3 separate regions of the Homo sapiens genome follow, and all the other regions are linked to region 1. Evidence: fine-mapped expression QTL. A gene starts in region 1. Each other region holds a variant in brackets. All regions are shown on one strand. Distances are from middle to middle. Region 1 holds the start of DNHD1 (dynein heavy chain domain 1). Region 2 overlaps DNHD1 (dynein heavy chain domain 1). Region 3 overlaps DNHD1 (dynein heavy chain domain 1).

Region 1 (10,135 bases):
TGTAGTCCCAGCTACTTGGGAGGCTGAGGTGTGAGGATTGCTTGATCTCGGGAGATCAAGACTGCAGTGAGCCATGATCACCTCACTGCCCTCCAGCCTGGGTGACAGAGCAAGACCCTGTCTCAAAATAATAAAATAAACCAGACAAAAGATAGGGAGAAGGTCTGTCCTCCTTTCCTTCAAGTCCTTGCTCAGATGTCAGATGTCACCTTTTTATTCAGGCTTACTCTGATTATCGTGTTTAAAATGGTAACCCATGCTCCCTTAGACATTCCTGATTCTCTTTGCTTTGTTTTTTTCCATAACACGTATCACTTCTCACATGCTATGTAGTTTATTCATTTTATTCTTTTTTTTTTTTTTTTGAGATGAAGTCTCGCTCTGTTGCCCAGACTGGAGTGCAGTGGCATGATCTCGGCTCACTACAACCTCCACCTCCCAGGTTCAAGCGATTCTCCTGCCTCAGCCTCCCAAGTAGCTGGGACTACAGGCGCCCACTACCACTGCCGGCTAGTTTTTTGTATTTTTAGTAGAGACGGGGTTTCACTGTGTTAGCCAGGATGGTCTCGATCTCCTGACCTCGTGATCCGCCCGCCTCAGCCTCCCAAAGTGTCATTTTATTCTTTATTATCTGTCCCTCCCACTCGAATGTAAGGTCCATAACTCAGGAATTTCTGTCACTGTTTCTGTTTTGTACACTGATATAACCAAACACTGAAAACAGTGCCTGATGCAGTTGATACTCAATAAATATTTGTTGAGTGAAAGGAGGCAAGAAAGAATAGTCCCAGGGCAAAGGTATAGAACTTGCCTTTAGAGAGAGAAAGAGCATCTCTAATTGGTAACAGTAAGGAGGGAGGAATGGATAAGAGCAGATCTAAATGATTTTAAAATTTAGCATTTGGAGATTGAGAGAATTCCTTTTAAATAGCATGTGATGGTTAGTTTTGTGTGTCAACTTGGCTAGGCTATAGTACCCAGTTATTTAATCAAACCCTAATTTGGGTGTTACTGTGAAGGCATTTTTATAGGTATGGGTAACATGTACACTTAGTTGACTTTAAATAAAGGAGATTACTCTTGATAATGTGGGTCTGTTGAAAGCCTTCAGAGTAAAACTGAGGTTTCTCAGAGAAGAAGAAATTCTGCCTCAAGACTGCAGCATCGGGCCAGGTGCAGTGGTTCACACCTGTAATCCGAATGCTTTGGGAGGCCAAGATGGAAAGATTGCTTGAGTTCAGGAGTTCAAGGTTGCAGTGAGCTATGATCTGTACTCCAGCCTGGGCAACAGAGTGAGGTTTTGTCTCTAAAAAAATAAAAATTTAAAAAAGAGGAAAAAATAAGACTGCATCATTAACTTCTGCATGAGTTTCCATCATGCCAGCCTGCCCTACAGATTTTGGATTTACCAGCTCCCACACATGTGTTAGCCAATTTCTTAAAATATATGTCTTTATATGAATATATATATCTTATTGATTCTGCTTCTCTGGAGAATGCTGATTGATAATACAGCATCTCATTTTTTTTTCAAATAGAAGGTAAAGTCATCATCTGAGAATAAAGCAGAAGGAAATGGAAGATGAGAGAGTACAAGAGGTTTGAAATACTGATTGCCCGGAATGGAAGAGTGAACTGACAAAAGAAACAGAGTTTTAGGCAGTGTTGAGGGTTCAGCAGAGCTTGCTGAACAGAATTCCTTTCTGTCTTTGTCTGAAGAGCTTTGATTGTGTTTTTTTGTTGTTTTTGTTTTTTGAGACAGGGTTTTGCTCTGTTGCCCAGGCTGGAGTGTGGTGGTATGAACACGGCTCACTGCAGCCTTAACCTCGTGGGCTCAAGTGATCCTTCCACCTCAGTCTCCCAAAGTTTTGGGATTACAGGAATGAGCCACCGCACCCACCTTTTTCTTGTTTCAAGGCCTTAAACTTTAAGGACTATTGTGACTCAGGTACCGTTCCTTGCCCTTTTATGAAAGAGTTGTCCATGCTCTTTATTCATGCCCTCACTGAATCCTTTGTCTTGTTCATCGTTATGTCAAAATTAATAACAACTAAACACTTAACAATTATATCAAATGTCTACTACTTACCAGGCTCTATTCTAAAGCATTTTGTGTGCATTAATTCACTTAATCCTCACAATACTATAAGGTAGACATTATTATCTTCATTTTCAAAAAGTGAAACTGAGGTAAAATATCCCATGACTAGTAAGTGATGAAGTTAGGATTTCAATCCAGGCAGTCTGATTCCAGAGCCCATCTTCTTACTCACAAATGAAGATTGTTATACATTTATGTATTTTTTTCCATGAATATTTTCTGATCATGTACTCATGGTGCCTAGTATAGGAGCTGGGGATAGAGTAGGCAGCAATCAGAATCTCTGCTACCATGGAGCTTATATTTCTAGTCAGGGGAAATAGGAAATAAATAAGTATTTATATGAAGTGGTAATAAGTGCTGTGGAGAGAAGTAATGCAAGTAAAGAGGATAAGGATGTTGGGGAGAGAGTTGCTATTTTCTGTTGGGCAGTTAGGGAAGAACTCACTAATAAGGTGACATTTGAGCAGAGAATTGAGAGAGTAAGCCTTGAGAGCATCTTGAAGAAGTGTTCACTCTTCTACTGTTCAACTAGTTGTGTAAACCACTAGTGGTCCTCTAGTATCCATTGTCTCCTTTCTTTATGTAAAGAACCTCTAAATTTTCTGTTGGCATATGACCACTGAAAATGAAGATTAGATTTTGTAGCTTTCCTTACAGCTAGGCTTGGTCATGTGATTGATGTGTGCAGTTGCCAGGCTGTGCCCTTAAAAGAAAGGGTATGCCTTCTCCTTTCCTTTTCCCTCCATCTCACTAGTTGGGATGGGACGTGGCACACATGGTGGTAAATTATTTTGGACCTTAAAGATGAGGACTACTTCCTTGGAGAAGGCAGAACAACTGAAGGCTACCGTGGTAGCCTCAGAGTACTTATATTTGGATGGTTATGTGAGAGAAAAAAATAAACTATCATGTTTAAGCCATGATATTTTGGGTCTTTTTATTACAGCATTTGTGTGGTAGGTAGAAGTTTTAGATCAGGGGTCCCCAACCCCCGGGCCACAGACTGGTACCAGTCATGGCCTGTTAGGAACCAGGCTACACAGCAGGAGGTGAGTGGTGGGTGAGCAGGTGAAGCTTCATCTGTATTTACAGCCACTCTCCATCGCTCACATTACTACCTGAGCTCTGCCTCTTGTCAGATCATTGGTGGCATTAGATTCTCATAGGAGCATGAACCCTATTGTGAATAGCACATGCTAGGTGGCATGCTCCTTATGAGAATCTAATGTCTGATGATCTGTCACTGTCTCCCATCACCCCCAGATCGGATTGTCTAGTTGCAGGAAAACAAGCTCAGGGCTCCCACTGATTCTACATTATGGTGAGTTGTATAATTATTATATATTACAATGTGATAGTAAAATAAGTAAAGCTCACAATAAATGTAATGCATTTGAATCATCCTGAAACCGTTAACCCCTCCCCTGGTCCGTGGAAAAATTGTCTTCCACTACACTGGTCCATGGTGCCAAAAAGGTTGGGGACCACTGTCTCTGAGATTTCCTGCTCTCTAGTATATATCTCCCTAGTATACGCTGCATATTCCATGGGACTGTGAATGTGACAAATTTTACTTATGTGAGAAGGTTATAATATATGGCATAGTTGACTGTAAGAGCGATTGTCTGGGTGGGCCTGATCTAGTCACATGAGTCACATGAGCCCTTTAAAAGCAGAGTGTTTTCTTTATGGTTGCAGAAGGGGACATCAGAAAAGTGTGAAGCATGAGAAGGGTTAGAGGCACTGTTGTTGGCTTGAAAATGGAGGAACCACATGTCAAGGAAGACAGGTGGCCTCTAGGACCTGAGAGTGGCTCCTGGCTAATGGCCATGAAGAAAACAGGGACATCAGTCTTAGAACTGCAAGAAACTGAATCTTGCCAACAACAATAATAGCTTGGAAGTGGATCCCCCCACACCCCCCACCCCCTAGAGCCACCAGATGAGTAGCCCCGTCAACATGTTGACTTCAGGCTTATGATACCCTGAGCAAAGAATCCAGTAAAGTCATGCTGGACATCTGATCTACAGAACTGTGAGGTACTACATAGGTGTTGTTTTTAAGCTGCTTAGTTTGTAATAACTTGTTATGCAGCTCCAGAAAACTTGCGCGTTAGTGGGGGTTCTCCAGAGAAACAGAACTGATAGGCTGAGAAGTCCCACAATCTGCTGTCTACAAACTAGAGAACCAGGAAATCTGGTGGTGGAATTCAATCCAAGTTTGAAGGCCTGAGAACCAGGAGCACTGATGTCCATGGACAGAAGATGAATGTCTCAGCTAAAACAGCAAGTCCACCAGCTGCCTGTTTAAATTCTGTTTAGGCAACAGATTGTACAATGCCCATCCACATTGGTGAGGATGATCTTTACTTAGTCTACCTATTCAAATACTAATCTCTTCCAGGAATACCCTCAAAGACACACCCAGAAATAATGCTTTACCAGCTATCTGAGCATCCCTTAGCTCCGTCAAATTGACAAATAAAATTAACCATCACAGCCGGGCATAATAGCTCGCGCCTGTAATCCCAGCACTTTAGGGGTGAGGTGGGAGGATTGCTAGAGGCCAGAGGCTCGAGACCAGCCTGGGCAACATAGTGAGACCCTGTCTCTACAAAAAAATAAATAAATAACAGTCATAACTTGTGTATCTCCTAACTGATACACAAGCAGACAGCACAGCTTGTATGTAGTCTGTGAGGTGGGGGTATGGCTGGTGTGATTCAGGCACAGCAGTAGTAGAGTGTGAATGTGAAGAGAGAAGCCTACAGAGGTAGCAGGCAGTTATCAGCAATTTGTAGGCCATGATAGGACTTTGGCCTTCAGCTGAAGGAATTAGATGAGGGGGCATTAGTGAGCTATGAGCAGAGGAGTTATAGGATCTGCCTATATTTGAAAAGGATCACTGGCTGCTCTAAAAAGAATGGATTGTAGGGGCAATGGTGAGAAGCATGAGAAGGATCTGAGGCAAGGAGAACAGTTCAAAGGCTGTGGAAAAACCCAGGTGAGAAATGATAGCAGCTTAGACCAAGGTTGTAGTACTTAAGATGGTGGGAAATAGTTGGATTCTGGATATATTCTGAAGGCACAACCAGCAGAATTTCCTGAAGGATTACTTATGGAGGGAGGGGGAGAGAGAGAAAGAGAAAGGGAAAAAGAAGAGGGAAAGAGAAAGAAGGGGTTTGGAAGAGGTCTCAAAGCTGACTCCAAGGTTTTGGTGTGAGAAACCAGAAAGAATGGATTTGCCATTGACTGAGGTGGGAAAGACAGTGAAAGGAGCAGCATTTCTTTGGTGGGGAAAGGGTGGTTAGGAGCCTGCTTTTGGACATTTTAAGTTTGAGATACCTATAAGCTCTCCAGGTGGAGACATTAAGTAGGCAGTTGGATATACTAATCTGATTTCAGAGGAGAGGTGGGCTGAATTTCTTTTTTTATTTTAATCATCAACTTTTTTTTTTTTTTTTTTTTTTTTGAGATAGAGTCTCCCTCTGTCGCCCAGGCTGGAGTGCAGTGGCGCGATCTCTGCTCACTGCAAGCTCCGCCTCCTGGGTTCACGCCATTCTCCTGCCTCAGCCTCCCCAGTAGCTGGGACTACAGGCGCCCACCGCCACGCTCGGCTAATTTTTTTGTATTTTTAGTAGAGACAGGGTTTCACCGTGTTAGCCAGGATGGTCTCGATCTCCTGACCTCGTGATCCACCCGCCTCGGCCTCTCAAAATGCTGGGATTACAGGCATGAGCCACCGCGCCCGGCCTCATTCAACTTAATTTTTAAAAATTAGCCCCTCCATAAGCCCTTCCCCAAAAAATCCCCCTCCCCCCGTGCCAAATAGATGTTGAGCTCCTTGAGATCAAGGATTTTGTTTTATTCGGGCTTCTTTTGGGGAGGTGGGATAGGGTAGATGGATACGTTGGGGGTGGGGATGGGGGAGTACCAAAGACATACCAAAGACCTGGCACTAGTTTAGATACTCAGCGAATGGATATAAACACCTGCTTACGACACCCTCTGGATTGCTAGTCTCCCGAGTCAACCGTACTGCACGTGCAGTTCAGACCCCGCCTGGTCCTCTACAGGTCCCTGTCCCAGGCAAGCCTTAGCCCACAGGTTGAACCTAGTTCTGCCCCTCCAGGCTTGGGCTCTGCCCTCTCGGCCCCGCCCATATCGGACCCTGGCCCCTCCTCTTTCTGGCTCCCCCGGATGCTCCTGGCAAAGACTCGGTCCTTCTGGAATCTTGTAACGGTTCTAACAGCTGGGTGCGGGTGGAGCTGCGGGTGAGTCCTCGGCTCCGGATCCATTTCTCTTTGTTCCCTAGGACCCCCTCCCACAGAGTCCGCCTCCTCTTCCCCGCTCTCCCAGCCCCCTCCTTTGCCTGTTAACGTCTTCCCCTACCTGCATCCTGACCATCATTTGCTGTGCCTGCTCCTCGGCTTTCTGTCTTCACGACCTCCTTAGGCTGTGGGCGAAGACGTCATGGGACTGGGGCTCTGCTGCCTTCGAGTGACGACCTGTTAACCCGTTTTTCAGGCGATCGCCAGCTCGAGTGCAGATTCCTTGCTGTGACCGAGGTTCAGAGTGAGCTCTGTCGGTGTGTCAGTTTGCCTCTTCAGGTGATTGCACGTCTGTGTGCGAGTCTCTCCGTGTATGGGTGGCTATGATTAGGGTGAGCCTCAGACTGGAACTCAAGTCTAAGTTCATTCACTGCTCCAGCAGGCACTCTTCAATGAAACCTCATCAGCAGATCGGGCTCTCTTCCCTTGCCTTGCCTCCTAACCCCCCTAGGCCAGGTGAGGGGGACAGGGTACTGGGAGGTAAGAAGGAACTCTTCTGCAAGGAGGGCTCTCACGTCTGTCTTAGGCCTGCTCCTTACCAGAGTCTTTGGGGAAGCAGTAGGGAGGGCCTGAGGGTCTCAGGAAAGGCTCTCTGCTGGTCTGGCTCTGCTCTGTAGCTCCATCTATTTCCCTGTCCCAGGTCCTTTCTTCCTCCTAACCCCATTGACTCTGACCATCCCCTGCCCAGAGCCTGAGGTCCCTTCTCTGGCCCCTCTGCTGGGCTGGCCCATGCAGGTGAGGCCCCGCATCTGGCATCCTGGAACTGGCAGTTGGAGCCTGAGCTATGGGCAAGGTCACTTCGACAGCAGTTGAATGCCCAGCTCCTCATGGTCCCGGAGGAGAGGAGGGTAGGTTTGTCTTCTGATGAGACATCATCTGATTCCCTTAAGTCTTGGCACTCCATATGTGTCTTGGACAGCAAAGAACAGCCCTTGGCCTGCCAGCAGAAACAGAGGCAGTTCGTGAAGCCAGTGACTGAGTCAGAGCAGCCCACAGTGCTGGAACTCCTGCTAGCTGAGCTCCGAACTCTGTTCTCAGCTGTGTTGCAGGACAGTAGCCCTGCAGCTTGGCGCTATCTTCATGCAGTACTGGGTCTACTGCCTCCATATCGTGAGTTGCTAGTTGGCCACCTTGATTTGCTGCCCTTCCTGGAGCAGCTGTACTGCTGGGCACCCTGGGTCCAAACCCACCTCCATCTGGACCTGCTAGGTGCCATTGTCCAGGCCTTTCCTCCAGACAGCTCTTTGTTAGACAGTGCTTCCCATGCTGACTGCTGTCCCCAGAAGCGGAGGCTCCATCACAGGCCCCCATGCCCAGCTTGCCCTTTTGTGCAGGCCCAGTGGAGCAGGCAGCAAGTAAAGGAGGAGCTGGCCACCTGGCTGCGACCATTGACACTGCCTGAGCTACAGCGCTGCCTGGGCATTGTTGGTGCTCAGGTGGCCCTAGAAGAGGCTGTGTGGCTGGATGGACTTAGTCTCCTTCCCTTGGCACTGGCAGCGGACATCCCTGTACGGTATGAAAGCAGTGACACTGACAATGCAGAGGTGGAGCCTGTTGGAAGAAAAGAGACCAGGTAAGTGAGGGACTCAGTCTAGGGCTTGAGCAGAGGAGAAAAAGTTGCTGTTTTATGGGTGCCTCTGGGGTCACTTGGAAGTTTAGATCCAGCTCTCTGTTTATCACAGGGATTAGCCCAACTCCACACAAAGCTAGTGTGAGGCTACTTTCCTCTTCCTTTTTCTCTGCAAAATAAACCCAGTGGTGTTAGTCTTAATCCCCATAGAGAAATACAGAAATTAATGAAAATCAGAAGTCAGCTATGAGGCAGCCAAAGCTTTAGAATAACAGCTTGACTTTTCAGTTTCCAGGTTTTTTTCTTAGATGATGTCAGAAGTCTCCTTAATTATTTTTCTATAATTCATTCATAATCACTGAACATTGCCTGGGCCTACTGTGAGTTGATTCCTGGATGTTGGGTCTTTCCCTCAAGGTACCCCTGGGGAATGTGTGTCCGAGTGTCCTTCCCACATGTCTATGTGACTTAAACCGGCTCCAAGGCAGAGTGGAGTTGGCAGCACTACTGGATAGAATTTCATTTTGACCCTTCCAGAGTCTTCTTCTTGCCCTGCCAGTGTGGGCACTCTGGCCCCTTGAGTGATATATTTTTCTTTTGTTTCTTTCTTTCTTTCTTTCCTTTTTTGAGATAGAGTCTCACTCTGTCGCCCAGGCTGGAGTGCAACGGCATGGTCTCGGTTCACCGCAACCTCCGCCTCCCGGGTTCAAGTGATTCTCCTGCCTCAGCCTCCTGAGTAGCTGGGACTACAGGCACGTGCCACCATACTCAGCTAATTTTTATATTTTTAGTAGAGACGGAGTTTCACTATGTTGGCCAGGCTGGTCTCGAATTCCTGACCTCATGATCCGCCCACCTCTGCCTCCCAAAGTGCTGGGATTACAGGCGTGAGTCACTGCGCCCGGCCCTATTGTTTTCTTTTTTAAAATATCTGGCTATCAGAGCTCTCTACAGGATTTCAGAATGCTTACAGAGACCTTCTCTTCTCAGCGTTCTCTAACTTTCGATTTTTTTTTTTTTTTCTGAAACAGAGTCTCACTCTGTCGCCCAGGCTAGAGTGCAGTGGCCTGACCTTGGCTCACTGCAACCTCTGCCTCACAGGTTCAAGCGATTCTTTTGCCTCAGCCTCCCGAGTAGCTGGGATTACAGGCTCATGCCACCACGCTCAGCTGATTTTTGTATTTTCAGTAGAGACAGTGTTTCGCCATGTTGACCAGGCTAGGTTTCCAACTCCTGGTCTCAAGTGATCTGCTCACCTCGGCCTCCCAAAATGCTGGGATTACAGGCATAAGCCACCGTGCCCAAGAGAGTTTTTTAACTTTAGTTTTGGAATTCTCCTTGTCCTCTGGCCTCATTTTCTAGACAATGCTTTGCAGCTGTCTGTGGCACATTTACTGTTCGGGAAGAAGGCTAGTTTTACCTTTAATTAAGGTTGGCTTCCTCAGTTTTTGCTGTAAGTTTATGGCTGGGTCAAGTCTTTCCATTAAAGCCTAATGTTAGATAGATAGGCAGGCTCCTGGGGCCCTAATGGGAGGTGGCCAATGCCATAAATTTATGGTGGCCCTATTGGAATCTTTTCCTTTTTCAAAGAGCTGCCCTGTGCCTTGAGTACAAGTTTCCTTTCCTGGGAGAACTTGACTGAATTGGCATGGGCTGAGATGTTGGGAAGGGATCAAGTTCTTTGCCCTCCCTTTGAACCTGGCAGTAAACCTCTGAGGTCTAGCTAATATGGCTTAATTTGCATTACGTTCTCCCGGAGTGGTTTGCCAGGCATTCATTCATTCAATAAGTGTTGGATAGCTACATTTATTAGGATCTGCAAGATGCTAGGGATACAGAAGTGAATGAGACAGACTCAATCCCTTCACTTGAGGTATTACAGTTTAGTTAGGGAGATATAGTTAAGTTGATAACAAGTAAAATATAATTACAAATTGTAATAAGTGCTATAAAACAAAAGAATACTGTCTTTTGCCTGGCTGCTTCTCTGCAGGTGGGAGAGAGAGAGAGAGGGAGTGTAGTTAGGGGGAAAGCATGTGGGGGGAGTGTTCAAGTCTAGATTAGATTAACAAAAACATCAAACAGAGTTTCAAGGAGGAGGGAGCAGTCAGTAGTATTACATGTTAAATGA
Region 2 (10,135 bases), 51 kb after region 1:
AAAATTCGTAATACAAAGTAAAGGCTCTGGATAATGTGGGCCTTGGGATGCCTGTGGGCATAATTTCAGATACCAGCCTGGGTCCTACCAGTCTTTCCTGAGCTCACAGCCCTTCCTCCACCTTTGCTCCTTTTCAGTTTTCCCTTCTCTCTCTAAGCTAGCATTTGCACCAAGCACTTGTGTGGTTGAGGTTTCTCCCTATGGGTTCTCTCCTTTCTCTGTACCAGGCTTTCTTTTCCTGTTAACTCCGGGCATGTTAACCAAGGACCACATCTTTGTAGTGGCCACACACCATGAAGCTGGTGACTTCGTTCACCCAAATAAACCCCAAATGATGGACTTGTTATATATTTAATTCTTACCTCAAGAAGACAGGTTGTTACAGGATTGGGCACACCTACAAATTATTAATCTCCCCTTTAGATTCTTAACCAAATGAGGACAAGGATATATATGAAAATGAAAGTATACTATCAGAACCATCACCCCCAAGGAAGTTTGTGCTTTTTATGTATCATGTTGGCAGACACAGCTTGGATCTAGGTCAAGTGAGACTTCGTGCTACCTCGTCATAATCTTCCCCCAATTAATTGAGAACTTGAGGTCTGTGTGGATATGCAGAGAAAAGCTGAAGTACAGTTACACAGGTAGCTGTGTAGAGGACTGTGGCCTGCCTCATATCCCATAGAGCATAAAAGATGGGCCTCTTTGCCTCCTCACATGGGGAAGAGTAAGGGAAGAAGATAGACAGAGGGGCTGAAAGCATTAGTCCAGTGCTGTTTTCTCTAGAGAGTGGAGTAGAAGTTGTGTGACTCTGAGAGCAGGATAATGAGTTTTCTTCCCACCAGGGATGTTTGGAGAGTCCTACATGTGTCTGAATAAACCTCCTTTCTTGATTCTTCTCATTTTTACCCCAATTAGTGTCCCTACCTCATTTCCAGCCCTAGTCTTACCAAGCACTTGTGGCATGAAGGGATAACTCTTTAAGCAGCACCAGGGAGCCAAGCACTAAGACTATGAGAGAAAAGTTTGTTCTCAGCTTCTCTACCAAGACCCGTTTTAAGACAGAATGGGCATTCTTGCTATAGAAATATTACGTAGGGTCCTGGAGCCATTCAGCCCTCTTCCCGGGCTAGAGGCTCTAGTTCTTACAAAGCACTTCCATGGAGTTACGTGGATACTCATAGCAGCTAGTCAGGGAAATTAGCTGGCCTGGAGTCTGCCCACAGTGCCTTGGGAAAGGAGGAGCTTCTTCTCTCACCATTTTGAGACCCCAGTGCTTTACTGGCTCTACATATTGGCTGATGGAATCCTTAAAGGCAGAAAGGGCAGCTGGGCATGGTGGCTTACACCTGTAATCCTAGCACTTTGGGAGGCTGAGGTGGGTGGATCACCTGAGGTTGGGAGTTCGAGACCAGCCTGATGAACATGGTGAAACCCCGTCTCTACTAAACATACAAAAAATTAGCCGGACATGGTGGCACACACCTGTAATCCCAGCTACTCAGGAGGCTGAGGCAGGTGAATTGCTTGAACCCAGGAAGCATAGTACAGTGAGCTGAGATCGTGCCATTGCACTCTAGCCTGGGCAACAAAGCGAGACTCTGTCTCAAAAAAAAAAAAAAAAAAAAAAAAAAAGGGAAAGAAAAAGACAGAAAGGGCATCAGGGTCTCTGTAACTGCCTCTCCTGGAAGGTTCCCCTGGTCTCCTCTTCTCTCCCCCAGCCCCGGCCCTTGCCTCATCTGACTGCCAGTTCAGCTTTTTCTGTCTTAGATTACAGCAACCTGCAGGATTCCATCCAGGAAAGTCTTCAGGTGTTGTCCAAGATCTTGGCCATCGAAAAGTCAGGAGATTTAAACAAAATAGCTTTGGAGTGGGTGGCCATCATGCATGGCCTGGGTAAGTGCAGGCCTCTAGCCAGGCTGATGGGTGAGACCTGAGGCAGGATGTCCCAGAGGGATGGGGGTGAGAGGTGGAGGTTGGGTGGGAGAAGATATGAAGAACACAGTGAGGACCTCCTTCAGGGCTGTTTCTTGGGATGAAGAGATCAGGTTTTTATTCACAGTGAAAGTTTTTTCTCCCTCAAGCAAGTTCCCTGAGTCCTGCTGGGCAGAGTATTTTGCTTGGGCTGGTGGGGTACCTGAGAGGTCAGGAGCAGGGTGGACTCCCCTGCAGAAGGTAGAACCCTAGTGTTTCCCACCAGCATTCCTCTGGCTGCTTACACAGGTGCCCTGCTGGAGGTGTGGCTGACTTTCCAGCAGAAGTGGATTTTTCTGAATAAAGTTCTGCATGAGATGAAGATCCAGTTTCCTAATGCTGACCTGGTAGGGAAGGGGGTTGAGGCAGAGAGGGCAAGAAGGGTTCCTGAATAGCAGGGCTCAGCGTGGGAAAGGGGAGCTGCCACTTCATATTGGCCCTCACTTTTATCCTCTCCCTCACCACAGAACTCTCGTTTCAAGGTCATGGATGACCAGTATCGAACCCTGATGCGCATCTCTGTAGCTGACCCCATGGTTCTGTCACTTGTAGTGCCCAGTGCCGAGAGGAGCCCTTACTTCCAAGGCCAGCAGCTGCAACAACTGCTGCAAGCAGGATCGGTGGAGCTGGAGGGCATCATCATGAGTCTGGAGAGCGTGCTCTATGGGGTGTGTGCTCACTTCCCCCGCCTCTTCTTCCTTAGTGACAGTGAGCTGGTAGCCCTGCTGGCTGCTCGACTGGAATCATGCGAAGCCCAGCTATGGGTACGACGCTGCTTTCCTCATGTGCATGCTGTGAGCTTCAGGTCTTGCCCAACTGGTGAGAAAAACACAGATGACTGGGAGTCAAGCCCAAACACACAGACTCAGGTGGAGGCACTTGCAGTGCTAGGGGCAGGTGGGGAGGAGGTGAAGCTGCAGGGTCCCCTTCCTCTGCATCCAGATCTCCCTAAGTGGCTGGCCTCTCTGGAGAAGTGTCTGCGCTTGGCACTGGTGCACATGCTGCAGGGCTGTGTGGCTGCTCGCCTTGCTCGAGGCCCATCTCTAGGTGAGGCCCTCAAGCAACTGCCCAAGCAAAACAAGTTGTACCTGCAACTGTATGTCCAGCACTGGATCGACTTAGTCCAGGCCTTCCCATGGCAGTGTGTGCTGGTGGCAGAGGAGGTGGTATGGCGGGCCGAGATGGAGGAGGCTCTGCTTGAGTGGGGTACCCTGGCCATGGTCTCCATGCATATGCGCAAGCTTGAGGTACTGGTGAATTTTATGCGGGCCCAGAGGGCTTCCCAAGGTGGGCAGTCCCTGCCTTCTGTCCGCCAGACCAGCCTTCTCAGTGCCCTGCTGGTCATGGCAGTGACTCACCGGGATATAGCACAGCTGCTGGAACAGCACCAGGTCAGTGATCTCACAGACTTTCACTGGGTCCGCCAACTCAAGTATCACTTGGGTTCACCTCACATAATCCCCAAAAGCCCCCTACAGAGTCTTAAGACTATTGCATCTTCTGAACCCTCTCTGTCACCAGCGGCATGCTGGATAGATGTGCTAGGCAGGTCCTTCCTGTACAATTACGAGTATCTGGGACCTAGACTAGGGCCTCTACCCAGCCTACTGCCTGAACGGCCAGCCCTGGTACTATTATTGGCCCTAGAGGAGGTGGCCTGTGGGACCGTACTGGGTCCTAATGGTGTGGGCAAGAGAGCTATAGTGAACAGCCTGGCACAGGCCCTGGGCCGCCAGCTGGTGATGCTACCCTGCTCACCTCAGATAGAGGCTCAATGCCTGAGCAACTATCTGAATGGTGCCCTGCAGGGTGGTGCCTGGCTGCTGTTGGAGAAAGTTCATCAGCTGCCCCCTGGCTTGCTCTCTGCCCTGGGCCAGCGCCTGGGTGAACTGCACCACTTGTATGCCCCACTGTACCAGGAGGCTTCCCGAAACACAAGCACCATAGACCCCACCCAGCCCCAGCTCCTTGGCAGTAGCTTCTTTGAAAAACATCACGTGTCTGTGCGCCTTGGCTATGGCTGTCTCCTGGTACTGCGTGCCCTGAGCTCTGCTGTGCCTGCCAACCTGCACCTGCTGCTGCGGCCTGTGGCATTGGCATTGCCTGATCTGCGGCAAGTGGCAGAGCTGACTCTGCTGGGTGCAGGGATGAGGGATGCCTTCCAGATGGCTACCCGCCTATCCAAATTCTTCTCTCTAGAGCGTGAGCTGGTGTCTGGGCCCCTGCCCTGCCGCCTGCCACTGCTCAAGCAGATACTGGAAGACACAATACGGACACTAAATGTGACCAAGGAGGAACCGAAGTGCCAGAAGCCTCGCAGCCTAGCTGCCATTGAGGAGGCTGCCCTACTGCGCTCACCACTGTTTAGCATTCTCAATGGGCTCCACCTGCACAACCTCCGAGGGCTGTTGTGTGCGCTTTTCCCTAGCGCCAGCCAAGTGCTGGCAGAACCTATGACTTACAAGCTGATGAAGCCATTGGTGGTGGAGGAACTGCAACAGGTAGGTCTGGATCCCAGCCCTGACATTTTGGGGTCCTTGGAACAGTTGAGCCAGGCCCTGAGCCGGGCCTCAGGCATTCTGCTCCTGGGCCCTGCGGGCAGCGGCAAGACCACTTGTTGGCACAGCTTATTTAAGATCCAGAATCGGCTGGCAGCCATGGAGGACACCTCAACCCAAGGCTGCCAGCCTGTGGAAATTACCCACCTGTACCCCAGTGGCCTCAGCCCCCAGGAGTTCCTGGGATGGCTAGAGGGCTCCTGCTGGCATCATGGCATCTTTCCCAAGGTACTTCGTGCAGCCGGTCAGTGTAACAACATGGGCCAAAAGAGGCAGACAGAGGAATCAATCGGGATCCAGCACTGGATAATATGTGATGGAGCCTCCAATGGTGCTTGGCTGGACTCCATCACTTGCCTCCTGAGTGAGCTTCCCCAGCTTAGTCTCCCCAGTGGACAGCAGATAGCACGACCCCCAGGCACCTTTCTCTTGATGGAGGTGGCTGACACAACAGGCATATCCCCCACAGTGGTAGGCTGTTGTGCCCTAGTCTGGTGTGGTGGAGAGCAGACTTGGCAGTGTATACTTAGTGCCCTGATGGCATCCCTTCCTTATGAGTACCGCCTGCAGCACCGGACAGTCGCTGAGCTCAACCACATGGCTGAGGTTCTGGTGCCTGCAACATTGCGATTCCTCACCTGCCAAGGTGTCAGCTCTCTGCTGCAGGTACACGGGCAGCAGGCTGTTTGTGCAGGTGTGGCAGAAGTTACCAGCATGGCACGCATCTTGCATAGTCTGCTTGACCTCCACCTTCGCCTAAAGGAGGAGAAGGCCCCTGGCCCAGGTGGGAAGATGGACGGGCTGGTTTGAGAGAGATGGGGCCTTAAGGGTAGCTGGGGTATATAGCTGGAGCCTGGGGCGTGTGTTCTTTGGTGGATCTGGGCCAGGAGTGAAAAGTAATACTGTCAA[C/T]CTTTTTTCTTTCTTTCACCTTCCACCTTTTTCTACTGGGGCTCCTCTCGTGGCCATGGCAACTTTCACAGAGGACCTCAGCTATAGTGATCCTGTGGCCCAAAGCTTCAGGTCTTCAAAAAGCAGCTTTCTAAACCGGTCCCAGGTTGACAGTGACGATGTGCCAGATAAGTGCAGGGAACACTTGCTGGCTGTCAGCAGTTTTCTTTTTGCCTTGATCTGGGGCTTTGGAGCCCACCTTCCCTCCAGGTACCTACCAGGATGGGGGATGGGAGATGCAGAGGGCTGAGATGGACTGGCCCATGGAAGTAAAAACCCACATGACATCACTGTTAGGGTATGGTGGAGTGTGTGAGTGTGTCATAAATGGAAGTGTTGTAACTGTCTGACGCTTTTGCCTGTGTGTCCATCTGAGCAGGTTCTGGCCCATCTTTGATACCTTCATAAGGGATTCTATTAGTCGCCTCTCCAACTACCCTGAGCCACCACCCTCAGCCTTGGTGTTTGATCTACATGTAAGCCCTGAAGATGGAACACTGGTCCCCTTCACTGGCCAATACCTGAGCAGCCACATCAAAGGAACTTTGGGCACCTTTCACCCTTCTATCCAGGTGTGAGGACAGTAAGGCAAGAGCTGGGGTTAGAACTTCAGGACTTATTTTAGGGGTAATCCATGTTCAAAGATCAGCTGAGGCCCACTTGCTCCCTTTCTTTGATATATTTTCACAATCACAAGAATACATGAAATATTTTCCAAGTACAGCTCTAGGACAAGTCCCTTAGACTTTTATTTTCAGCTAGATTACTGTCTTATACTGGAGGTGCTGCAGTAAGTCCCACTTCTGTCTTGCAGACTGAACGGCTCTTGTATGTGGTGGACCTGCTTCTGTCAGGGGGACAGCCAGTGTTGCTGGCTGGAGAGGCAGCAACAGGGAAGTCAGCCTTTGTGGAGGTGCTGGTAGAGCCACATCACCCTTACATATACAGCCCCATCCACCCTGCCTTCAGTTCCTCCCACCTCCGTCTCCTGCTGAGCAGAGGAATCCAGGGCCAAACACAAGCCAGCCCACAGCCTGGGCATCACCAGGATTCTAAACCCTCCCTCCTCTTCTTGCTGGAGGACCTGCACCTAGCCACTTCTGGTGAGGAGCTGCGAAGAGGGAAGGAAGGAGCTACTGTCATCTCTTGAGACTATAAAATCCCTAGCAATATTCATTGACTCTCAAATATATGTCTGTAGATCTAACTTTAGTGTTCTGTTCTTAATATCTTCTCATTCTACATATGCTCCCTGAACAATCCCATCCACTCTCATGGCCTCATCTCTGCTTTGCTAAATCTCTGTGTCCAATCTCACTTCTTTTCTAAGCACCAGATCTGTCTATCCAGCTGTCTACTGTACGTCTCCACCTTGTTGTCCTGTTGGTACCTCAGACCCAACCCTGAGCTCATCATCTCCCCGCGGCCAAAATCTGCTCCTGTCTGTCCTCTTAGTTTCACCATCCAGCCAGTCATGTAAGCCAGAAATCTTGTTGACATCTCATTCTCCTTCACCAATATCCAGTCACCATGTCTTTTCAATCCTACCTCCTTCATATTTCTTGAATCTTTCCACTTATTTCCATGGTTCAGATGATCTTTACTTGGAAATCTGACAAATGCTCTTACAAAGCTTTCTGTGATGAGGCTTTCTTCTGTGTCCTCTTACACTCTCTCTAATTGGACTTAACAAGTCAGGCTTCCTCTAGACCCTGGGATTGCTGTCCTCTCTGCCTTCTCTATGTGGCTAAATTCTACTTATTATTTCTAAATTACCTAAGGCAGTAGCTTCTCCAGGAAGCCTGATCCATAGGCTCGGTTAGATATCCATCCTGTGCTCTGTACAATAATCTGTGATAACCATGATTTTATTATTGTATGCTTGCCTATCTGTCCCTTTCACCACACTTGGAGATTTATGAGAACAGAGAACAGAAATTTGTCTCATTCATTTTGGTAGACCCAACAGGAAGTAAGTGCTCAATAAAAGTTTGTAGAAGACAAGATAACAAAGGAAAGGAGAAAAATCTTGATAAAAATTTGGGATATTGAAGTGTAAAGTTTCTAAAGTGGTATGCCTCTAGATGATGAGAGTTTCTAAATATGGCCATGGGATTGGGAAGTGAATTTTAGGTAGAGGTTGTTGGAGTCAAGGAAGTCAATGGGCTGAAGCACTGGATAGGCTATCCAGTTAAACAGCGAAGTCTCTTATGAGATGTAGAAAACTTGAACCAGATGTATTCGTACTTAATAATAGCCAGTACAATTTATTGAATATCTACTATGTGCTCTATGATATGTCTATGTCATCTTCAGTGCTCATAAAAGCCAAGTAAGATGGGGAATTTTTGCAATTATTTTAAAGATGAAGAAACAGAGACAGAGATTTTAGAACTTGCCCAAGATACCCTAGCTATGAAGTGTCAGAACCAAGATTAAAATTCAAGTCTATTTGGTTCCAAAACCTGTAGTTCCTTCCAGCTATATTATTTGGTCTTTGCAATGAATTTGCACAAAATTAGAGACAATAGAAGGAGTAAAGAGTGGTACAGTCAGATATATGAAGAGATTTCAGCTGAGAAGAGACTTCAGCAACATTGTAGAGTGAAGAATATTACTGCTGGCAGAATGTAAAAGGTGTCCTTGAGTGACAACCACCAGAACATCCAGTATAAAATAAAAAATAAATAGACATGCCAACAAAAACCCCCAGAAAATAATGTGACCTGCTGTCAAGAAGAAGCAAGCAATAGAATAGAAACTGACCCTGAGATCTATATAGCTGTACGCTGTCCAAAAGATGCACTTTAAATATAAAAACACAGATAGATTAAAAGAAGTTTTTAATGCAAAATATTTACTACAGAAATAGTTTGCATAAGGAAGTTGATGTGGCAATATTAATACCAAAGCACTTTAAGACAAAGGATATTACCAGAGATAGAAAAGGACATCTCATAATTGAAAGATTCAACTCATCAGAAAGACAAAAGTCTTAAATGTGTCCACACCTAAAATAGACATTTAAGTATAGGGAAAAAAAGCCAATAGAAACAAAAGAGACATAGTAAATCTGAAATCATATTAAGAAATTAATATGCCTCTCACAATAACTGATAAGACAAGGAGCAAGAAAGTAGGGACATTAAAGATCTGAATAACACTAGCAACACACTGACATTTACAAAACATTATACTCACCAACTGCAAAATGCACCTTCTTTTCAAATGCACATGAAACATTCACCAAGATAGACCATATGCTGGGTTACAAAATAAGTCTCAACAAATTTCAAAGGATTAACATTTTAAATAATATTTTATCTGACCATAACAATACAAATATTGATAAGATGCCTAGAGAATTTCCAAATTCTTTAAAATTAACACACTTCTAAATAATGTACCAAAAAAGAAATTACAAGAGAAATTAGAGAATGTTTTGAACTAAATAATAATGAAAACAAAACATATCAAAATTTGTGAGATGCAACTAAAGGTTATAGCTTTAAATATCTATCTTAGAGAGAAAAGCTTGGAATCAATGACCTAAATTTTCAGCTTAAGACTCTAGAAAAAGAAGAGCAAGTTATACCCAAAGCAATTAAAAGGAAATCAATAATAAAGAACAGAGCAGAAATCAGTGAAATAGAAAAACATACAAACAATGGAGAATATCAACAAAGCCATATTTTGTTTCTTTGAAAAAGATAAAATTGACAATCGCCTATTAACACAAATCAAGAAATGAAAAGGAAAACATAAATTTTGAATATCAGGAATGAAAGAGGTTTTATTAAAGATATTTAAAAGGATAAAAAGGGAGCCAGGGCCGGGCACTGTGGCTCACGCCTGTAATCCCGGCACTTTGGGAGGCCAAGGAGGGCAGATCACGAGGTCAGGAGATGGAGACCATCCTGGCCAACATGGTGAAACCCCGTCTCTACTAAAAATGCAAAAATTAGCTGGGCATGGTGGCATGTACCTGTAATCACAGCTACTCGGGAGGCTGAGGCAGGAGAATTGCTTGAACCAGGGAGGTGGAAGTTGCGGTGAGCTGAGATTTGCACCACTGCACTCCAGCCTGGTGACAGAGCGAGACTCCGTCTCCAAAAAAAAAAAGGGGAGCCAGGCATGGTGGCATGCACCTGTAATCCCAGCTACTAGGGAGGGAGGCTTAGGCAGGAGGATTTCTTAAGGCCAGGAGTTCAAGACCAGCCTGGGCAGCATAGTGGGACCCTCATTTAAAAAAAAAAGTTTTAAAAAATGGATAATAAGGGAAAATTATGAAAAACTTTATGCTAATAAATTTAGCAACTTAGGTGAAATGGATACATGCTGTATTAGTCTGTTTTCACACTGCAATAAAGAACTACTTGAGACTGGGTAATTCATAAAGAAAAGAGGGTTAGGCCAGGCATGGTGGCTCACGCCTGTAATCCCAGCACTTTGGGAGGCTGAGGCAGGTTGATCCCTTGAGGTCAGGAGTTTGAGACCAGCCTGGCCAACATGGTGAAACCCCATCTCTACTAAAAATACAAAAATTAGCTGGGTGTGGTGGGGGTCACCTGTAATCCCAACTACTTGGGAGGCTGAGGCAGGAGAATCGCTTGAACCTGGGAGGCAGAGGTTGCAACGAGCCAGGATCACGC
Region 3 (10,135 bases), 40 kb after region 1:
TAGAAGCCACTGGGGCCTGGAAAGAGTTTGCTTGTATGCCCTGCTTGCTTCGCCTTCCCTGTCTTGGCTCTCAACAGATGAAAGCACATGTATCATTAGGTATCCAGTGGGCCACTAAAACTCCCTCCTCTTGTACAGGGGGTTCAGGCGGGCAAGGCAGGAACCGGGAGGACGTTTGATTGTTTTGTCTTCTCTCTGGCCGTGTTTTGGTCAGGCTTTACTTCACTGCTGCTGAGAAAGCTTATTGTTGTTCTAGTTTGTTAGCTTCCTGATCCTCAATCCAGGACCAACTAGTCTCTTTAAGAGGAGCAGGTGGAGAGAAATGAGCACTGGATTTAGAACCCTGTCTGTTTTTCACTTGCTTTGTAACTTCAGATTACTGTGTTTTAGTTTCTTTATTTGTAAGCTGGGCATGATAACACAGTCACTCACAGGGTTATAGTAAGGATGACTAAGATATTATTTGCAATACTCTTAGCATTGAGTGTGGCATGCAGTAGGTGCTTAATATTTTTTTCATTTCACCTTATCCCCTTGTATCTACTCTCATCCTTCTTGCTGATCTAATTTTATCTAACCCTCTGACTTAACTCTGTCGTTTCTCTTCTTCCTGAACTCCCTTGAACAACAAATGGCGTAATTATACACTCTGACGAATTAGCTTCACCAGAAACTTGGGGTCACCCTTTACTCCTCCCTCTCCTTGACCTTACTACATCCAACCTGTCTCCAAATCCTTGTCATTCTTCTGCCCCCTAAGTATCTCTTAAATCTGTTTTTATCCATCTCCAGCTTCTAATCCCAAGGAGTCCTGGTATTTTATCAATGCATTGCTCCTTTATACCATACGGTGTCACTGTTGAGCTCCCATCTGCCTTCATCTGCCTGTTGCTACTGGTCCAAAAGCAGCACCATAAACAAACAAACAAACAAACAAGCAAACAAATGTGGCAGCATTGCAATGGCCTAGTTACTGTTATGTTCCAAAGGGACAGTGTGAAAAAGGATGAGTTTAGATCTTCATGTTCTGTTTGATATAGGTTGTCCCTCAATAGGCTTCCTCTCAGCAGGTTTTCTTATTATCAGGTCTTAGTACCCAGTCATCTTGGTTACTTCCTCCAAGTCTCTGAAAGTGACATACCCAGTATGTCTCAATTATCTGTCCCCCAAACTCACTATTTTACTTACTAGTTGCAGAGATGCTAATAGAGGATCGGTCAGTTTACTTTGCACATAACATAAAAAATATTTTTAAATACTTTTTATAAACATATATTTTTATGTTTACATTTATATTTATAACATAAACATGTTTATATTTAAAATATAATGAAGTGGAGCCATGCTGCCTGAGTCTGAATCCTTGCTCTGCCACTGTGTGATGTTGATCAAGTGACATAACCTCTCTGAGCTTCAGTTTGCTTATCTGTAAAATAATAGTATTTACTTCAAAGGGAATTTGTGAGGATAAAATATAATTAAAGTACTTGAAATAGTGTCTGGTATGTAGAAAGCACTCTATACTCTATTTGGTGTACCATATTTCTATATTGTATTTTTCCTATTCTGTGCATATTTTAACATCTCTGAACTTTAAAGGTGTCTCATGATTGAAGATGTGTTAGAGTTTAGATGGCATCAGTTTTTTTTCTTTGTTAGTGGTATATAAAATAATGGTGCTTCTTACAACGGGATCTTAGATTTTATGAGGTATCATATGGGTGTTATCCCTGCCCTCTGAGATAATAAAGTTGTTCATACTGCCAAGGGCAGCTTCCAGGATTACTTTCTAGCCCCTTATCCACCTGAGACTTTCTTTACTTTAATCCTTAAAAACAAAAGGCAGATCATACTACCTTCTTGGTCCCCTTCTTCTAGAGCAAGGGCAGTAAGACTCCAAAACCAGAATACTTTTATGTCTGCTAGGATACTCTGCTATTCACAAACATGTCATTTCCATACTGTTGCACACACTGTTTCATCTTTTTGGAGAATTAATACTCAACACATCCAACTCCAGTGTTCCCTTCTCTGAAGGGGCCTTGCCCAGCCTTCTCAGGATACCCCCCGGCACCCCCACCTCTTAGCTATACTGGCTGAAGGCTCCAGGCACTCACAGTGGATTTATCACACTGATTTGTGATTGCTCATTTGTATGTCTGTCTCTGCCTCATATTGTGAGCTTTTCAGGGTGGGGAAACTTTCTGTCTCATTCATTTGCTCTCGTCTACCAGTATAGAGCACAGTCCCCAGTGCATAGCAGCTGACTGGACATTGAGCAGGGATTCAACAAGCATTAAATGAGATAATTCATGGTCTGACCTGCCATTCAGCCTACTCCCACTCTGGACCACAGCACTGTCCCCAGCACCCCTTCTTTTTTATGCGTCCCCTCACACCTTACTCTCCTGTCTCCAGAATCCAAGCTGAACAGCATAAGGAAGGACATTCTTGCACACGTGCAAAATGAGTGCTGGAACCTCAGTCAACAACTCATGACAGAGCTCACAGATTTCATGCATATCTTCCGAACCATCAACTCAGATATTCATGCCATTGCACAGTGCACCCAGAAGGTGGGCTCTCCCCATCCATCCTTCCCAGTTTATTCAGGGCCCATCCTGCTCAAAAGCTCAGCACACTCTCTTCAGGTCTCTGCTGAGCCCCCAGCAGAGCTTGATGCTCTTAAACTGTGCTCGCCTAAGAGATCTACCCTTGCTAATTCTTACCCTGTCCATGTGGCCCTCAGGTTCCTCATGTCACAGGGAGGCCCTGGTGTGATGAGAGAGTTGTGCTCTCTGTGACAGTCAGATAGAAAATTGTTGCCTTGTCATCAAGGTAATGGGGTGGTGGGTGAGAAGTGGACCCTTCACCAGAGAGATCTGGGTCAGAGAGAGATTTGATCCCTCTGGAGAGATCCCTCAGGAGAGATTGCCCCTGATTCCAGTTGATTACAAGGCTGCAACTGGGTCTGGAGACTTCACTCCAAAAGGTGGGAGTTCCCCTTGGGGATGGGACCAAAGAGGTACATGGGGTTGTGGGGCTGCCGGTCTCATGCTGTAATTCCTGCAGTTGAATGAAGCCAATGAACAGTACGTCGAGCTGGAGGAGCGAATGGAATACGTACGGGCACTCCACGAACTCATCCGCAACCACTTTAGCCTCTTTAGTGCTGAGAATGAAGCACTGGACATCTCGGTGAGAAGGCAATTCGGGGAGTCACCCATCCCTCCCTGCCCTCCTCCCCCACAACCACATCTACTCCACTGCCCTCTGCTTGCCCCACAGCTTCTGGATATGTGGGAGGCATTTCAGTTTGAGAAAAGCCAGGCTTCAGAGTTCCTGCTCAGCAAGCGACATGCCATTATGCCCAAGCTGCAGCAGCTGATGGCAGCAGCATTGGCAGAGCTGGAAGGCCTGCTTGCGAAGGCCCTCTCCGGTCCCTTTATGGACCCCACACAAGATCAGAGGAGTACTGAGCACCAGCTCGTCTCCCTAGAGCGTCAGTTCCAGAACACAGTCAGCGACCTCAGTGAACTGCACCACGCCTATGCCATCTTCACTGGTACTGAGGATCCCTGCACCCTCCATTATCACTCTGTGATAGACCCTTCAACTGAAGTAAGAGTTGGAACTCAGGGTTCTGTGTCCTGTATGACCCCAAGCAAGCCTTGGGAATCACACACCTTCACTGGTGTCTTTTATAAATGAAAATTTCAGGACAAAAACATCATATATTGACCATGGCAGGTGTTGTGCTTAGGGTGGGGGTATGGGGGCTCACAGTCTGGTAAGGAAGGCAAACAAGTGAATGTTCCATCAGAATGTGATGGGGTCAGGGGCTAAAAGCATGTGTGGGAGAAATGTAAGTTCTCCTTATAGAACGTAGCCTTTTTGTAGCCCTGTTCAACACAGTCCTACACCAGGCAGCAGGCCCCGAACAAGAGTAGGTCTTGATGCTCTAGCAGATCACTTCCTCCAGCCAGTGTGGTATAGAGAGGAGGCTACTGAGGGCCTCACTAATACACAGGAGGAGGCCAGGACAGAACTATTGGTCTCAATTCTTTCATACAGTGGTGCAGGTAAGCTGGTTCCCTTCTGTTCTTAAAGAACTCTGTGGGCTCTGGAAGGAGACCAGAGCAAATATAAGAGCCATTACCAAACAATGGAGACAGGATCTCAGGCTAGAGTGCAGTGTCATGATCACAGCTCACTGCAGCCTCAGCCTCCCAGGCTCAAGCAATCCTCCCATCTCAGCCTCCTGAGTAGCTGGGACTACAGGTGTGTGCCACCATGCCTGGCTAATTTTTGTATTTTTTGTAGAGATGAGGACTCACTTTGTTGCTCAGGCTGGTCTTGAACTCCTGGACTCAGGCAGTCCTTCTGCCACAGCCTCCCAAAGCACTGGGATTACAGGTGTAAGCCACTGCGCCTGGCCTTCCTTCCAGAATTCTTATATGTATGTTGGATTTACTGAATCTCTCTCACTCATTGCTTTTATCTTCTTTATCATCAGTCATTCCTTTATTCTTTTTCTCTGAGTTCTGGAAAAATGTTGTGAGCTTGTTTTATAAGCTTCCATTTCCTATGGTATCACTTTGTATTTCTATTGCATTTTAAAACACACATTTTGCATGTGTATGCATGCTTATGTACACATGTATACGCATGTAACTGTGTGTTTATGTGTATATACATGTGCACACATTTGCTATCTCTATCTGCTGAAGAGGACATGAAGCAAAGAAACCCCAGTAGCAAGAAGCCACATTGTGCTCAGGTCTTAGTTTCTAACAAACACCATTCCCCATTAAAAGGAACCAGAGCTCCTTAGAGAAATGGATGATTCCAGGGCTGTGGCAGGGTAGGTACAAGATGAACCTAAAGTGTCATTTTATACCAGAAAGTAAGAAAGTATTAAAGTGTTTAAAAAAGTGATGGGAGCATATCACAAGGATTCAGAAGGGATACCAACTGGCTAAATCTGGAACAATTTGATCACCAAAGTAAGTACAATAATAAATTCTAAGCTATTGAAGTAAAGGCATTTATTATGCGTAGTAATAATAAATAGATAATGAGAGAGAAATGAGGACTCATGCTTACAGTAAAATGCCAGGAGCTGACTGGCATAAATGTGGAAGGAAGGCTGGAGTGGGAAAATTATTATTTTGCAACCATCATGGTAATTACCAGATCAGATAAGGATCAACAGATGCCAAATCTAGGGCAAATTTGATGAGGAGCAGAATATTTGCACTGTCTTTGAGAGTTTCTCCCAGAGATCACTTATTTGTTGTAAAAAAAAAGAAAGAAAGAAAAAGAAACAACAATTAGTGGAGAAATCAGACAATAATTTGACCAGGTGATTAAAAATTAACATCACCAATGAAGGACATAGGGACATGATCTGCCTTCAGATGTGATACTGGAGAAGGAAGGATACAATATCACTTATGTAGTAGTCCAGCTGAGAATGAGTATCATTTTTAAAAACCATAAAAACACAACATGAGGAACTTTCTATGAACAAAAAAAATGGCAAAAGGGGACTGTATACTTCAAAGATGTCTGTTACAAAAGAAAGAAAGGCTATGGAAATGTTCCAGATTAAAAGAAACTAAGAGACATGACAAATGCAGTGCTTGACCCTGGACCAGATGCTATAATTGAGGCAAAAAATGCAATCTAGGACATTATTAGGTCAACTGACAAAACTGAAATATGGACAGTAGATTAAAATATTGTATCAATATAATATATGAAATTTGGAATTGCACTGTGGTTATATAAAAGAATATCCCTACTCTTAGGAAATGCATACTTGAGTATTTATGTAACTTGCCCTTAAATAGTTCAGAAAAAAAAATTGTGTGTGTGTATATGTGCATACACATGCCCATGCACAGAGCATGTGAATGCAAATGATAAAGCAAATGGGTAAAATGTCAACAAAAGGCAAAGATAAACAGTATAGATATATATCTATACCTATGGAAGATAGAAGGTACACAATTTTTTTTTACTACTTTTTCCTACAACTTTGAAGATTGGAACTCATTTTCAGATAAAAAGTTTTAAAATGCATGGAAATTATCAAGTAGATATCACAAAATGTCTGTCAAAGGACATTTGCTCTTAATCCCCAGTTTGTCTTTATCTTTTCATGTGTTTGGAGATGATATCTCTG[C/A]TCTTTCTTACAGATGAAGTTGTTTATTTGTCTAATATTTGATGTTGAAACAACTGCTGTCAAAGATTGTATGGGACTCTAGCCATATCTTTGAGTTTAGACAAAGACTGGAAGAGTTTAGATTTACTGTCATTTTACTTTTTGTCAGATCAGAGCTTTGATAGCCTAGTGATTCCAGCTTTTTAATACTCTGAGATCTCCAAAATGGATGATGTGCACATGTGTAAGATGCATGAGGCCCAGCATTTGGGTGTGACTCTATCACTTTTTGTCCCACTCAAGAAAGTAAACTGGAGTTCAAGTTAATGAGATATCTGTTGTCTTTTAAGTAAATTGCAAACCTCGATATTATAATTATTGTTAATTATAAATTCCTATTGACACTTATCTCACAACTGACTATAAGTAACTGATTAAGAACTAATGTAGTACCCTGTGAGATGAAGGGGTGGAGGATAATGGCCGGAGGTAAACATGACAGGTCCTCTATGTGGGCCAGATCTTTTTTATATTCATCTTGCTGAACTTTCTTTTGGGCTGACAGTTCATTCGCTCATTCATTCATTCATTCATTCAACACATATTTGTTGAGAGACTGCTGTGTACACTAGGCTTGAGGTACATCAGTGAACAAATGATAAAATGCTTTTCTTAATGGACCCAAACTTCTAGTTGGGAGAGAAAGACAATAAACAATGATGATAACCAAATTCTGTAGTATATAAGAAAGTGATAAGTGATAGAGAAAAAAAAAAAATAGAACAGAGTAAGAGGGGTTGAAAATGCCGGGAAGGGTAGCTAGGAATTTTTAACCAGATAGCCTGCATAGGCCTCATTAAGAAGGTGCTGTCTGGCTAGGCGCAATGGCTCATGCCTATAATCCCAGCACTTTGGGAGGCCGAGGCGGGCGGATCACGAGGTCAGGAGTTCGAGACAAGCCTGGCCAACATAGTGAAACCCTGTCTCTACTAAAAATACAAAAATTAGCCTGACATGGTGGTGTGCGCCTGTATTCCCAGCTACTTGGGAGGCTGAGGCAGGAGAATCACTTGAACCCGGGAGGCAGAGGTTGCAGTGAGCCGAGATCACGCCACTGCACACCAGCCCAGGTAACAGTGCAAGACTCTGTCTCAAAAAAAAAAGAAGATGCTGTTTGTTTGAACAAGGACTTGAAGCTGGTGAGGGCATGAGCCATGTGATTCTCTGAAGGAAGAGTGTTCCAGAAAGAATAGACTGCTAGTCAAAGGCCCTTAGCAGGAGGGTGCATATCTGGTGCATCTCAGCCATAGTAAAGCGTCCAGTGTCACTAGAATGGAGTGAATGAGATGGAGACTAATTAAAGAGGAACTCTTCCCTTTCACTGCCATCACATTTTCCCAGATGGTCTTTCCCTGGAGTAACTGTTCCTTGGATTAACCCCACCTCCATTGTTGAGCCAAACAATTTGGAACTCCACCTCCCCCACCCCCAACCATCACTTTCTGGACCCTACCTTCTGTCATTATGGGCTCTTGACTGATCATTCCACCACCCCCCTCCCAACACTGCAAGTAGCCCAGGTCTCAAGTCAGCCCTCCCCCACAGAGGATGAGACTCCTGTGCCCTTGCCAATCTGTGGGACACGTCCTATTGTGCAGCAGCAGCGCATATGGCACCTGTACCGAGTCATCTCCGAAAACATCAGCGAGTGGAAGTGCATGGCTTTTGCCAAGGTGCTGACACCCTTCCTTGGAGCTCTTGACTGGGAGTGGAGGACTACAGTGGTGGGGGAGGGGAAGAGTCTCAAGCTGACAGTGAGCCCTTCTCCCTGCAGTTCAGCCCAGCTATGGCCCAGGAGAAGACAGAGGGCTGGCTGACAGAGGCAGCACGGATGAGCACAACCCTGGAGCTGCACAGCCCCGTGCTGCAGCACTGCATGCGCATCCTGGGGGAGTTTCGCAGCTACCTGCCCCTGCTCACTAAGCTGGGCAGCCTCCACCCACAGAGCCTCAACTGCCAGTGTCTCCTGCGTGGTATGTTTGGTTAATGTCAGAGGAGGGGGAAAGGGAAATATGTGAGGTTAGAGCGATGCAGCAACTCAGTTTCCTGCTGCTCCTGCTGGAAACACCTTTCATCCCCAAGTTTCTCCCTACCTTTCCCACATATTTCAATTTCTTTTCCTTAACTGGGACAAAAATTTTTAACTTCCCTTACTACCTCCTCTCTGCTGATGGTGGCTGGGCTTGGGCTGGGGCCTTAGCTCTGGGCTCTGAGTTGTGCTCTAGACCTTGAGTTCTAAGCTGTTGGCTCTGTGTTGTGCTCTGAGATCTGCTATCTGGGGTCTGAGCTGGGCTGGGCTGGGCTGGGCTCTGGGATATGGGATATGGGTTGGACTCTGCCACATACTGGGTGTTGCTCTGACTTGTTTTCTCTACCTCCAGCCCTTGGGCTGGGCAGTCTCCAAACTATAGAACTCCTAACGCTGGGCCAGCTGCTTACTTATCCACTGCTGGAGTTTGCAGATCGAATCAACCAGGTGGGGCCCTCAGTACAGGGGCGAGGGAGGTGGTCCAAAGCCAGGACCTGTAATAAAGCCAGTCAAGGGTGGTGGGTGTTTGGCATGTGATTTAATGTGGGGTTGAGCCTGCTAACCTGCCTGAAGGGCAGGAACAGTTTCTTTAAGTCTCCAGATGGGGATCTCTTGTGTGATTCCAGACTCCCAGTGACTGAGAGTATGTCCCTGATGGGGGAAGGAAGTGGGTGGCAGCCCCGAAGTTGTGGGCACACAGAATGGCAGGTGCCCCCCAACACCTGTCTTGTCCCCAGAGGGTGCGAGCTGACTGAGGTATTTGCTCAGTTGGAGCCTTGCAAAAGTGGGTGGGGGTTCCAAAGCAGTGGCCCTGGGGCAAGGTAGTTAGATGCTGCCGATGGCCTATCTTTGAAGCCTGATGGTCCCACTCTCGCTTCATCTCTGAGACCTCCACTTTCCTGAGCCCTGGCCCTTGAGTTCTGCCTCAGATCCAATCCCCAAGTCTCGGCTCCAAGCCTGTCCCCGAAGCAGTTACCCAGTCCTGGTTCCTGAGACCCAGCTGTTCCAGGTCTGGCAGAATGAAAATGAACGAATTCATGCCCAAGAGACTATACGGCGGTTGCAGCGGTACTGGGAAGCGCGCCAGCTGCGCCTGCTCAACTTCATCCTGCATGTACCCTACGAGCCCCCAGCCTCAGAGCGCTCCAAGAGGCAGGTGCTCCGCAGCCCCCAATGGGAGGTAGTGGACAAAGATAGTGGCACCTTCATCCTCTCAGGTGAGACCCAGACCTTGTGACCTAGTGAAAGCCCCCTGCTGGGGGCCATTTTCATCCACCATATCCATCAAGGCCTGCCAGATCTGATTCTCTAGCCAGGGCCCCATCCTTACTAGACAGCCTAAGACATTAGTCTGTTCTGAGACAGTGTCTTCCATGTAGCCCCCCTACTGTCTTAATCTCCTTGGGATCCCCTTCCCCTCACCCATCTCTACTCAATGCCTGGGTCCTTCAGCAAAGGTCCTCCCCTTTCTGGGTACCCTCAGAAATTCCTCATAGTCAGTTATCTACACCTTTCAATGCTCTGTCCTCTAGATTGCACCCTGCTGTCTGATTTTATACCTTATTCATTAATTCATTTCTTTATTCTCTCCCTCATCAAACCTGCCTCCTCTGTGCTAAACACAGGAGACCTTGAGACTTACAGACAGTATCCCTGTCCCCCAGAAATTTCTGAGTCCAGTGAGGAGAGACAGACAATACTATAGGGATAAACACAATGGAGCACCTTACTGAGGGCAGTAGAATCTCAGAGAGAGGACCAGCTCAAAGAACCAGAGAGAGAATTAGAGAAGTCTTCTTTAGGCAGAGGCCTTATACTGACTTTTTGAAGGAGTAAGAGTTTGCCAAACTTGCCAGGTGAGAAGGGCAGACCAGACA

Evidence for each region. PIP is the estimated chance that this variant, and not a neighbour inherited with it, causes the effect.
Region 2: its variant is the best candidate, but not a certain one, in a credible set for the expression of DNHD1 in whole blood (TOPMed, PIP 0.72).
Region 3: its variant is the best candidate, but not a certain one, in a credible set for the expression of DNHD1 in whole blood (TOPMed, PIP 0.61).

What each region holds. Positions count from the first base shown.
Region 1 is chr11:6,490,955-6,501,089 of GRCh38, forward strand. DNHD1 (dynein heavy chain domain 1) reads left to right here and starts at 6,326. Exons shown (of 43, transcript NM_144666.3): 1 at 6,326-6,377; 2 at 6,631-6,713; 3 at 6,817-8,007. The coding sequence starts at 7,262.
Region 2 is chr11:6,542,348-6,552,482 of GRCh38, forward strand. It overlaps DNHD1 (dynein heavy chain domain 1), which reads left to right. Exons shown (of 43, transcript NM_144666.3): 19 at 1,774-1,899; 20 at 2,227-2,324; 21 at 2,445-5,319; 22 at 5,516-5,693; 23 at 5,863-6,055; 24 at 6,298-6,586. Among named protein-coding and RNA genes, the nearest start is that of DNHD1, 50 kb to the left of the region's middle. The variant C/T (reference allele first, on the strand shown) is at 5,445.
Region 3 is chr11:6,530,609-6,540,743 of GRCh38, forward strand. It overlaps DNHD1 (dynein heavy chain domain 1), which reads left to right. Exons shown (of 43, transcript NM_144666.3): 13 at 2,419-2,576; 14 at 3,073-3,565; 15 at 7,775-7,902; 16 at 8,004-8,202; 17 at 8,611-8,705; 18 at 9,268-9,475. Among named protein-coding and RNA genes, the nearest start is that of DNHD1, 38 kb to the left of the region's middle. The variant C/A (reference allele first, on the strand shown) is at 6,191.